Homo sapiens: one gene and its partners. The protein of the gene in region 1 interacts with the protein of each later gene in a pairwise test. Each region holds a gene or a part of one and is shown in the gene's direction. Other genes may lie near its edges.

The links.
Region 2: the proteins of PNMA5 (region 1) and KIFC3 interact in binary tests that used the Homo sapiens proteins (3 or more experiments, as listed by UniProt).
Region 3: the proteins of PNMA5 (region 1) and CRACR2A interact in binary tests that used the Homo sapiens proteins (3 or more experiments, as listed by UniProt).

The regions. Positions count from the first base shown.
Region 1 is NC_000023.11:152,992,594-152,996,411, reverse strand, and holds the start of PNMA5 (paraneoplastic antigen-like protein 5), read left to right. Parts: upstream 1-2,295; 5' UTR 2,296-2,379; intron 2,380-3,625; 5' UTR 3,626-3,755; intron 3,756-3,818.
Region 2 is NC_000016.10:57,800,541-57,804,140, reverse strand, and holds the start of KIFC3 (kinesin-like protein KIFC3), read left to right. Parts: upstream 1-1,649; 5' UTR 1,650-1,771; intron 1,772-3,600. UniProt on the Homo sapiens protein: Minus-end microtubule-dependent motor protein. Involved in apically targeted transport. Required for zonula adherens maintenance.
Region 3 is NC_000012.12:3,751,545-3,755,362, reverse strand, and holds the start of CRACR2A (EF-hand calcium-binding domain-containing protein 4B), read left to right. Parts: upstream 1-2,253; 5' UTR 2,254-2,348; intron 2,349-3,818.

The DNA.
Region 1 (3,818 bases):
TGCAGGAAGCTGTTTTCTGGAACACAAAGGGCTGAGGGTTTCTTAACCTTCACTGTTTTCCAGGATCACAGGGCTCAGGAAAAATTCAACATTGTCACTATCCCCAATAACTTTTTTTAAAGAAAAGTGCTATGGTTTGAATGTGTCCCCCAGAGTTCATGTGTTGGAAACTTAATCCCCAATACAACTGTTGAGAAGTGGGACCTTTAAGAGGTGATTAGGTGAGGAGGACTCTGCCAGTGTGAATGGACAAATGCTGTTATCTCGGGAGTGGATTTGTTATTGTGGGAGTGAGTTCCTGATTTTTTTTTTAAAAAATGAGTTTAGGCCCCTTTCTTCTCTTTCTTTTGCTCACTCTTACACATGCTTTCACGTCTTGATGCCTGCATGCCAGGCCCTCAGCAGGTGCAGCCCCTTGATCTTAGAGTTCTCAGCCTTCAGAAACATGAGCTAAATAAATTCCTGTTCATTATATGTTACCCAGTCTCAGGTATTTGATTATAGAAGCACAAAACAGACTGAGACAGAAAAAAGAGAGAGAGAGAGGAAGCTAGTCTTCTAGTGAGAAATAGAATGAATTGAAGTATACGTCTGGCCAGGGGAGCACCCAGTAGCCCAGAGGTGACTGAGGCAGAACCTCTTTCCAAAACATCACCTTCTGTGATGTTGTGATACCAGGCAGCTAAGCAATGGCTTTCAGCACTATTTTCTCCTTGTCACATGAAGGAGATTGATTTAATGGGCTCTGAATTGTCTTTTTTTTTTTCCAGACAGGATCTCGGCCAGGCACGGTGGCTCACACCTCTAATCCCAGCACTTTGGGAGGTCGAGGTGGGTGGATCACGAGGTCAGGAGATCGAGACCATCCTGGCTAACACAGTGAAACCCTGTCTCTACTAAAAAATACAAAAAATTAGCCGGGCGTGGTGGCGGGCGCCTGTAGTCCCAGCTACTCGGGAGGCTGAGGCAGGAGAATGGTGTGAACCCAGGAGGTGGAGCTTGCAGTGAGCCGAGATCGCGCCACTGCACTCCAGCCTGGGTGACAGAGTGAGACTCCTTCTCAAAAAAAAAAAAAAAAAAAGACAGGCTCTCACTTTGTTGCCCAAGCTGGAGTGCAGTGGTGTGATCTGGGTTCACTGCCACCTCTGCTTCCCAGGTACAAGCGATTCTCGTGCCTCAGCCTCCTGAGTAGCTGGGATTACAGCTACTCAGCTACTCAGATTACACACCCAGCTGATTTTGGGATTTTTAGTAGAGACGGGGTTTCGCCATGTTGGCCAGGCTGATCTCAAGTGATCTGCCCACCTTGGCCTCCCAAAGTGCTGGGATTACAGGTGTGAGCCACCACACCTGGCTGAAGAAGGTGATATCTGCAAATATCTTTCTCAGTGACCATAAATTTAAAATGTTGTCCGCTTTTAACATATTTATTAAAACAGTACCAGAAAAAGCCTTTTCTTTTTTAATCACAGAGAAAGAAAAACAAATATATTCTGTCACTAAAGGTCCACAACTTCTGGCCCTGAAATGTAATCATAGGCTTCAGACCCTTGCTCCACACAGCCTGGGCAGGGATATGCAGCAAGTAACCTAGCTTTCAGTGGAACCATCCCTGCCTCAGATCTCTTCACGCATTTTTTTAAGATTACCAGGGGATTTGTGTGCACCTTGAAGTGTGCTACCTGTGCCGCACCCACACCCTTTTCTGGAACAGTACTTTCGGGCCGCTGCAAGCCGCAGGACCTTCCCTCTGTGGAAGAAACCTGCTTTGGGAAACGACAGGAAGCAGTTTGGGTACTAGGTGCGTAATGTTTGGTCGTGAAATCAGGAGAATAATGGGAGAATGGAATATTTTCAGTCATCTGGCTCTCAGTGAGCAGCGAAAAAAAACTAATGCCCTTGTGAAATGCAGGCAGTAGCTGTATTTTTTGCCCTCCTCCCCTAGAACAGTCCAATAAAAAATAAACGAGGGCTATGACTCGTTTATAAGGGCGCTCACGTGGCCTATACGTTGCACTGGGTGATTTGCACCCGGCCCTTCACCCATGGGCTTGGGACGCCACAGCTCCCCTCCAATGAGGAAGAGCCACAGTGGCTGCTGGGCCAAATGGCACGTGGCGAGCCTGGCTGCCACCGTCGTCGGCACGGGGGTGGGTGGGGTGAGGAACCACCTTGCAGGAAGTAGGAGGGTTTATGTCACCAGTGCGCAACCGTGAGCGGGCCGTGTGCAGTTCCGCTCATGGGGTAGGGGGGCGGTCGTCACCAGACAACCTCTTCCCGCCACAGCCTCGTGGCGCAGTCAGCACGGAGGCGGCAGCCGCCATAGACGTGTGGTGGTCGCGCTGCGCGGGAACTCCGGCTTGGAGGCACCTCCGGCAGGTACGGAGCTGGACCCCGGGCTCGGACAGCAACCCAGATTACGGGGGAACCCCCCAGTAACTCTTGCTATTTTCCACGGGGTCTAGGGGCTGGTGGCCATAGGTTTCCCTGGAGGCGGGATCCCACTAGATCACACCCAGCACGCCAAGGAATCCCTGCCATTTCCAGGCAGAACTTCAGGGAGACCTGGCCGGGCGCGGTGGCTCACACCTGTAATCCCAGCACTTTGGGAGGCCGAGGCGGGTGGATCACCTGAGGTCAGGAGTTGGAGACCAGCCTGGCCAACATGGGGAAACCCCGTTTCTACTAAAAATACAAAAAGTAGCCGGGCGTGGTGGTGTACGCCTGTAATCCCAGCTACTCAGGAGGCTGAGGCCGGAGAATCACTTGAACCCAGGGGGCGGAGGTTGCAGTGAGCCGAGATACGCTACTGCACTCCAGCCTGGGTGACAAAGCCAGACTCCGTTTCAGAGAAAAACAAACAAACTTCAGGGAGACCTATTCCACCCTTGACCTGCCCGGAGACACTGCAGTCAGGATAGTAGCTCTTGGCCCTTGCCCTTGAGGGAAAGTGGCTTCGAACCTTCCCCTCCTAGATTCTGCCTGCTTCCACTGATGTCGGTGGTGTGGGTGTATGTAGATAACCGGGTGGGGATTGGGGGGAGCAGGGGAATGGAGGTAGGGGATTTGGGGATATCAGTTAGACTTGCCTCGGGGTAGGAGTTGGACTTGGTGAGGGGGCAGGGCTTGGGGTAGGAGTTGGACTGTGGGTGGGGGCAGGGCTTGAGGCACGAGTTAGACTTGGGTGGTGGAAGGGGTTAGACTTGGTGGGGGGCTAAGCTTGGGGTAGAGGTGCAACTTAGTTATAGGCAGAGTTTGGCAGCAGGGGTGCAGGTTTTGAGGTGGGGCTTAGGAAGGGTTGCAACATGGCTGTAGGGGCGGAGCTTGGGAGGGAATGGAGTTTGCAGTGGGGGTAGGGCAGCAACCTTACCTTAGGATCCCTTCTGCCCTACCAGCAGCCCCCCTGCCCCCACCCCCTACCTCCCTCCTCACCTCCCACCCCTCTCACCATTCGTCCCCCGACTCCTCCCCCCGCTCCGCTCCCTCTGTCAGTTGAGCAGTTTCTTCTATCCCTGCACCAGGGTCCTAGTGAACACCTATGCAGAGTCTGAATTGGCATGGCCTGGGCAGGGACATGTGTGTGGGACAGAATCACAGCAAAATACCTCTGCTTTGCCTTGGACAGATCCAGTGAAGCAGGACCCATCACGCCTGAGTCAGGAACTGCCTAACTGGATAGAGTTGAAAAGCAGAGCGAGTCTGAAGTGGCTGTGTTATTGCAGCATCCGCGCTGCCAGCAGGGCCAACCCAGCAAGGTGAGCAGCTGTGAGTTGGGCCCTGTTGGGAGGGGCTCTGGAACCCTGGCAAAGAGTGGGGAG
Region 2 (3,600 bases), on another chromosome or scaffold:
GAACAATAAATGTTATTATTAATTTAAAAATCTGGCTTTGGCTTTGGTGGGAAGGACCTACAGTTAATGTCAATGTACTCAATCCCTGAGTAAGAAAAAGTCTCCAGTTTTGAACCAGGACTTTAAAGACATTCTGTCCTCCCCATCCCCCGCCCCATCAACTCATAGGGACTATAATCAAGGGAGATAGATACTAAATCAGAATTCTAGAGACATTTTGCCTTCATCCACCCTTGCGGTCCCCTGGATCACTGCTGTTTGGAGGGCAGGCAGAGGAATTCAGAGATCATAACTCCCCAAATAAGGCTTTCTCTCCCATTGGAAGGGTTCTCCAGTGTGGTGTTCAGCTGGAAATCTAACTCTCTAGGGAATGATTCCAGGAGCGTTACATTCACCCTCTATCAGGCCTTCACTGAGGAATCTCAGTTGTCAAATAAAGCATGCACTAGGCTGCTTCCAGCTGGGGGACTGTGACTGTCCTGCTCTGGCGTCCAGAACAATCTGAGGCCCAGGCCCTTGGCTCCGTCGCTGGTCGAGATTCTTGACTGGCAGCCCAGCGCCTGGGCGGCAGCAGGAGATAGAACCCACCTGGAGTTGCCCGACCCCCTCCAGTCCTCTCCTTGATCTTCTTGGGCCATCCCCTGACAAGCAGGAAGGGACAGAGTACCCGCCCTCCTGGGATTATCTGCAGAACCGTCAGCCTGCATGGGCTGGCTTCAGAGTGACTTGCTTTCTCCTCTTCCGCACCCGGGGGTGTGGAGAGTGAGGGAGAATATTGCTGCTGGCTCTGGAATAAAATGCTGCCTCTGTTTGGGAGACAAAGAACAGAGTGGCTCCTCCAGGTCAGCTGTCTCTCCCGGCTGGCAGGCCCCTGGCCTCCCCCAGGCCTCTTCTGAGGCTCTAGGTGCCCCAGTAGCAGGGCCTTCTGCAGCAAGGCCGGGAACTGCTGCACCATTGGTGTGTTTTACCTTAAGGGACTCCAGGCAGCTTCCTTGCTGGGAAGATATTCATTTGCTGGGGTGGGGCTGGGGGTGCAGAGGTAGGAAGTGCTGTGGCTAGAAGGCGGCCTGGCCAGCGAGTAGGTGGTGGAGCGAGTGAGAGCGTGTGCGCTGTAAACAGTGTGAGTGCATGTGCGCCAGCGCGTGCAAGGACACGGTAAGGGATGTACATGTATTGTCTCGTGAGTAAGAGCTTGTGTGTGTGTTGGGATGGGAAGACACGTACTGGTATGAGAGCCCGCGTGAGAAGTGTATGTGTGAGTACTCGCGTGGAAGTTTTGCACTCGGGTTTGAGGCTGTGCAAAAGTACGCATGGCTCACCAGGTGTGGGGCTGTGTGGGCTGCCTCGTGTGTGCCAGCCCGTGTGCAGGCCTGTTTTGTGAGAGCCTTCAGGGAACGCATGAGCACGTGTGCCAGTGCGAGTGCGGGACGCGGGGAGGCGGGAGAGACCGAGTGGGAGGCCCCGCGAAGGAGTGGGAGTGGGAGTGGGAGTGCCGGCGGGAGACCTGCGGGGGCGCGCCCGGGCTGACGCGTGCGCGCCAGTGCGCGTGAGTGCGGGCGCGCGCCGCCGCCCCCCGCCGGGGTCGGAGCCGGTTGCCATGGGAACGCGCCGCGGCCCGAGTTAATCATTTCCTGTGGAAAGTGTGCGGGAGGGGCGCGAGCGGGCTGGCCGAGGAGGAGGCGGCGGCGTGGAGCTGCCTCCTGCCGGCGGGCCGGGCCGGGCCGAGCCCCGGGCGCTGCGGCGACGCCTGGATCCTGCCTCCGCCAGGCCGGTGAGTGGGGGGCCCGGGCGGGCTGGGTGCGAGCGGGGCGCTGGGCTCTGCCCGGCCCGCCGTTTGGGGCGCCGCGTCCGGGCCGGCCCTGCCCTCGGGACCCCTCTGCCCGGACCCGCTATGGGCGCGGGGAGGGAAAGGCCCGGGAGACCCAGCCCTGCGAGGTCCCCTCCAGCGCCGTTCAGCCCGAGTCGAGGACCTTGCTGGGAGCTGGGCACAGGGGCGGCGTGTCCCACGGGATCCGAGCAGCCTCGGGACCCCGTTTGGATTTTATTGAACGAGAAGAGCGCAGACCCTACCCGGGATGGGCTTGTCAATCGGCGCCGCCCTCTCCCCTTCCTGGCGTCTTCCCCACCCCCAGGGCTCCCTGGAAGGCTGCCTTTGGGTCCCTCCCACCACGTCCCTTGGGGAGTTCGCTTTTTCCCTGGCAGGGCCTGGGGCGGGGTGCGCCCGCCCAGAGGTTAGGAAGAAGGGCCTTGGCCGGTGCCCTCCGGGCAGTGAGGAATCGGGCCATTGACAGCCGCAGCAGTTGTGAGGGTCTCAGCAGGGAGGGCGATCCCAGGACCACCCCTTTAAGCCCAGCATTGCTAGTTAGAGCAGAACTCTGGCTGGTGCAGTGAAGGGCCTGGTCCTGGGAGATATTAAAGAGGAAGCTGTGTTTAATTAAATTCTGGAGTACCATTTACTGCCACCCAGCCCCCACCTCCATACCCCAACACTGTCTCAAGATTGCGGGTTGTGGCCACCCCTGGTCTTTCACCTTCCCCGGCTTTTCCTCTGCCTGAACAGGGTGAGCACCCATTCTTTCCCAGACGTGTATTCCCCATGCCCTTGTTAGAGTAGCCGTCTCCTTGACCAGGGAGAGTCATTTGCTAGGAATGCAGTCTCAGAATGGGGCCCTGCATTTGCAGTGAGTGGACTTTAGGGGCACAGGGTGGTGAGTTCTGCTGTTCACAGGGGCACCAGGGAGCAGAGGGTTTGAAATCTAGGTTGCCCTGGAAAGCCCAGGATAGATGATGGTGTGCAGGGAGGTGGCATTCCCTGTACAACTTCCTTGACCTTCTGCCTGCTCTCCCAGGGCGACCAAGCCCTGCTTGCTGCAGTCTCTGAGCAGCTGTCCAGCCTGTCCCCCCAGTCTTTGCAATGTCCCTGATCTAGGGCAGGGGGAGTATTGCAGCTCTGCTGTCCTGGTCTAAACCCAGAGAGGCAGAGACCCTCTTCCCCAGCCAGGCCCTCTGCATTCACCCACCACTGGAGCAAAGTAACTGAAAAATAAAATTTTGGAGCTCTTTGTATATGCCAGTATTGTTCTGAACACTTGGCCTTGTCTAATCTTTAGAGCAACCCTATAAGGTGGTGTTCTCCCCATTTTATAGATGGAGATAATGAAGTACGGAGAGGCAAAGTAATTCTCCCAAGGTCAGACATCTAGTAAACAGGGGAGCCAGGTTCTGAACCAGTCCCACTGCCCTCCCCCACGAATCCTAGGTTGGTAGAAGTCCCCGGACACCAGGTTTCATCTCAGATGCCCATGTAAATGAGAGAGAGTCCTGCTTTCTTGGCCCAGAACCCTGGGCTTAAGATTCCTTGATACTTTTGACCTTCACACCCCTGAGGCTGCTAAATTCAGCTGCTTTTTCCTCTTCGGGATCTAGCACACGCCCTTCCTCTTTCTTCCCGATATCTTCCTGGCTGCCTCCTCCACTTCCCTTCCTGATAACCGCAGAAACGCTATCTCCTCCTGTCCCTGCCCCTCAGACTGAGCTGAGCTGATCTCCCTGAAAGTCTTCTCTGTCCACTGTGGAGTCAGCCTCCAATGCCCTGCACTG
Region 3 (3,818 bases), on another chromosome or scaffold:
TTGAATAAACGAGTTTGGGTTTCTCCTGCAACACTGAATCATGTAATCATGGGGAAAGAGGAGGTGGAGATCCTCATCCTTCCCATGGTCCAGGCTAGCTCCATAGCCTGGGGCCAATCAGTGAGTATCAACTGTGCCTCAGTTTCCTACATCCATACATTGGAAGAACCATCTTTTCCCTGTCGCTTTTCTGCCACGGGCCAAGAGTAAAAGAGGCACGAATGTACAAGCTGAACTTGCAGCAGTTAATGTGATGGCTCTGTGATTCTGAAGGGCACCATGAGGCGTGGTGTTCTGTTAAAGAAAACGCCAGCAAATTAGAGACATCCCCATAGAAGCCAGAAGATGTGGTTAATGTTTGCAACATGAAATGTCTAGGTGTTCTGAGGTGGGCTAAAGGACAGTTGCTTTTCTTCCCTATTAAATAGGTGGTTAGACTCAGACACAAGGGAACAGGAAGCAGAATGGCATCAGAGACAAAGATGACTGCATGGAGTTTGGTGAGAAACCATCCTCAAAGCAGCAATTTTTTGGATGAGTCTCAGCCTTTCTGAGCCTCTGTTATTCCAACTGTGAAGTGATACAATTAACAATAACAAAAATTTGATAAGAGCAAATACATTTGGCATTTTTAATGAACCTACTACTATTCTAAGCCCTTTAAAGATACACATTTATTTCGATTCATAGAACACCCCATGATGCAGGAGCTGTTACTATCCACATTGTACTGATGGAGAAAGTTCCAGTAACTTGCCAAGGACGTAGCTGGCAAGTTGGAGCACTGAGATTCAAACCCAGGGCTTTGGCCTCCAGAGTCTGTGCACTAACCACTGTAATACCTCTGAGACTGTAAGGGGCAAATGAATGACAACGCATTGATTTAGAAGTGAAAGGCGATCTAAACGTGCAAGTATTAACACTATTAAAAACAACAATAACAATGGTAGGTACCTCCGATGCCTCTGACCTTATCTCTCTGGTCACAGTTTTCTGCTCTGTAAAATGGGTGGGCAGGCTTTACACTGGATAATCTCTGAGGCCCCTTCCACTTCTCAGATTCTGATAATGAAATGTCCTTCTTTCCTCACATAAGGCTGAGAGAAGGTCAAGCCACCAGCTTGCAGACCTTGGGAGTTGACACAGGGAAGCATACCCAGGACAGAGCCAGAAAAGCCAAGGCACGCAGTAGGGACACACCAGAGGGCAGGCCTCAGAGCCCCTGACAGCCTTCTGAAACTCTGGCAGGGTGGAGGGAGGTTGTGGGCTAGTGGCTGGCTGGGCTGCAAGGAGAAGAAAGGACTCCACAGAGTAATTTATAACAGCTGCTCAGTAAGTGCTAATTTGTTTCTCTCCACCTTGGAATAGGACTTAGCGCGTGTGAGAGGGGGATGCTACTACATAAACCAGTACCAGAAAGATGGGCTTGCCAGGAAAGAACTGGGGCACTCTGCAGGGGCAGTGTCTGGGGAAGGGTTCTCCAAAAAGGTGACATTTCAGAGGGGCCTGGATGGATGAGTAGGATTTCAACAGGCAGAGATGAAAGGGGAGGGTGTTCCAGGCAAAAAGAAGAACTCCCAGCAGCCATGAAGAACAGCTGGTGTTTGGCAACAGCTAGTGTGTCCAGAGCGAAAGTGTTGTGTGTGTGTGAGGGAGAGAGGGTGAGGCTGGAAAATTAGGTTGTGGCCGGAGAGGGCAGGGTGGGCCTTGCCTTGTGCGCTAAGCTGAGGGGTTATCCTGCAGCCGGAGCACCTCGGGAGGCCTTTGAAGATTTACTCAGTGCTTTATTAACAAATACGTATTGGGTTTTTGGTGTTTTGTTTTGTTTTTAACGATTCATGCCCACAGTAGAATATATAGAAGAGTCAGAAAAGTATAAAGAATAAGGATCCCCTTTAGTTTCTGCTCCCAGAGGTAACAGCCGGAGTGACGCCGGGCTGCTGCCGGGTTTTCGGGGGTGCACTCCCAGACACCACCTCTCCAGTGAGCCAGCGAGGGCCGGACTGATGCCCCACCTTGGGAGCCTGAATCGGGGCAAGGGGCCTAGGGAGCAGCGGGACCCCGGAAGCCCGACCAGTCAGGCCGGCTAAGTCGGCAGCCGCCCCGCCCTCGCCACCCAGCCTCCCTGGCGGCCTCAGGTCGCGCCTGCAGGCCCGGACCCCACCGCTTGGCGCGCGCACGTCCCGGAGGGCGTCCAGGGGGCGCCGCTTCCCGTTCAGCTCCGCTGAGGGGCTGGTCCAGCCCGCGCGGCTCGGAGCGGAAAGAGTCGGGCGGAGCAGGCGGCTGCTTGACAGCTGAGAGCCGAGCGGGCGGCGCGGGCAGGTCCACGGGAAGCCTACACGCCCAAGGTAACGTGGAGGAAGGTTGAGGGTGGGCGGCCGGGGCGGCCGGGGGGCGGCGCTTCCTGCCTGCTCCTCCGGCTGCGAAGTGTGAGCGCGTGTCTGCCGCACATGGAACTCGCAGAGGGCCTGGATGGAGGCTGTGTGCCCTTGGGGGGGAACAGCTGGCTCCCCTGCCACCCCCAGGCCTGGCCTGGCCCTTGCTCCCCTCCCTGTCACTCGGTAACGGGACTGGAGGAGAGCCGAGAAGCACTAGGGTTTTGGTCAGGAAAGGACCTTAGGAACCCTCCAGCCTCATCCAGCCTCTTCATTTCACAGATGAGGAAACTGAGGCTCAGAATGGTAAAGTGACTTGCCCAAGGTCTCAAGTCTAAGAACCAAAACTCCTACCTTGCAGGTCAGTGCTACTAGGAGCCCTGGCCACGCAGGCAGCATCCACAACTGTTGCCATGCCGAGAAACAAAGAACCGAGACAGACAGTCAGAAAGACACAGAGAGAGAACCTCCCAGAGCAAAGGAAGGAGGTCAGGAAGTGGGCGGCTGCTGGGGCTTGGCTTCCGCCCTGGCCCCCGCGTGTGCTGGCCTGGCTGTGTGGCTCAGAGGCGTTGTGCTGACTCTGTCCGTGTGTGTGTGTGTCCGTGTGTGTGTGTGTCTGTGTGTGTGTGTCCGTGTGTGTGTGTGTGTGTCCGTGTGTGTGCGAGTGTGTGTCTGTGCACCCATGCATGCACGGGATGCAGCGAATGTACCCTGCCACGTGGGAAAGCCCTCTGAGTTCATTTATCTGTTTACACAGTGTGCTTAGGAACCTGCCCTGTTTGGCTCTGTGGAGGACACCAGGAGTCTCAAAGGAATTCGTTCTGTGTGACTCAAGAGGACAGAAAGAGCCAATCCGTGGGAGTCCCCAGGGTGGTCAGAGGGTCAGGAGGAAGAACCTAACTCATGAGGTGATGGGTTCCTTGTCTCTGGAAGAAAGCAGCATGTACCGAAGAGTCTTTTTATCAAGGATGTGGGCATAGGGATATGAAATCAGAGCAGTTTGCTCCACGTGGAATCAGCATTTTTGTTGAAGGGTCCAGAGTTCATGCCCCTTTTCAGGTGAAATGAATATGTACAACCTCATGGTTTAGTATTTGCCCATAAGAGCTACTTCATGCGCAGTTTTTAAGTGATAAGTGAGAGGCTTCAGGTATGGCTTCCGAGGTCCTGTCACCTCTCGGTTCTATAAGTGAGAGGCTTCAGGTACGGCTTCCGAGGTCCTGTCACCTCTCGGTTCTATACTATAAAGTGTGTAGAGGGAGTTTGGAGGAGGGAGGTTACTTCTGGAAGGAGTGACTCGCAGAGGGCGTCCTGGATGTGGCACTGAGGCCGGGCCTTGAATAGGAGGCTGGGTCTGGGCATCTTGGGGAAGGACGGCTGAGCAAAGCCGTGAAGGTGGGTTGTACCTGAGGAGCAAGGAGTAATGTAGTGGACAATCCGGTG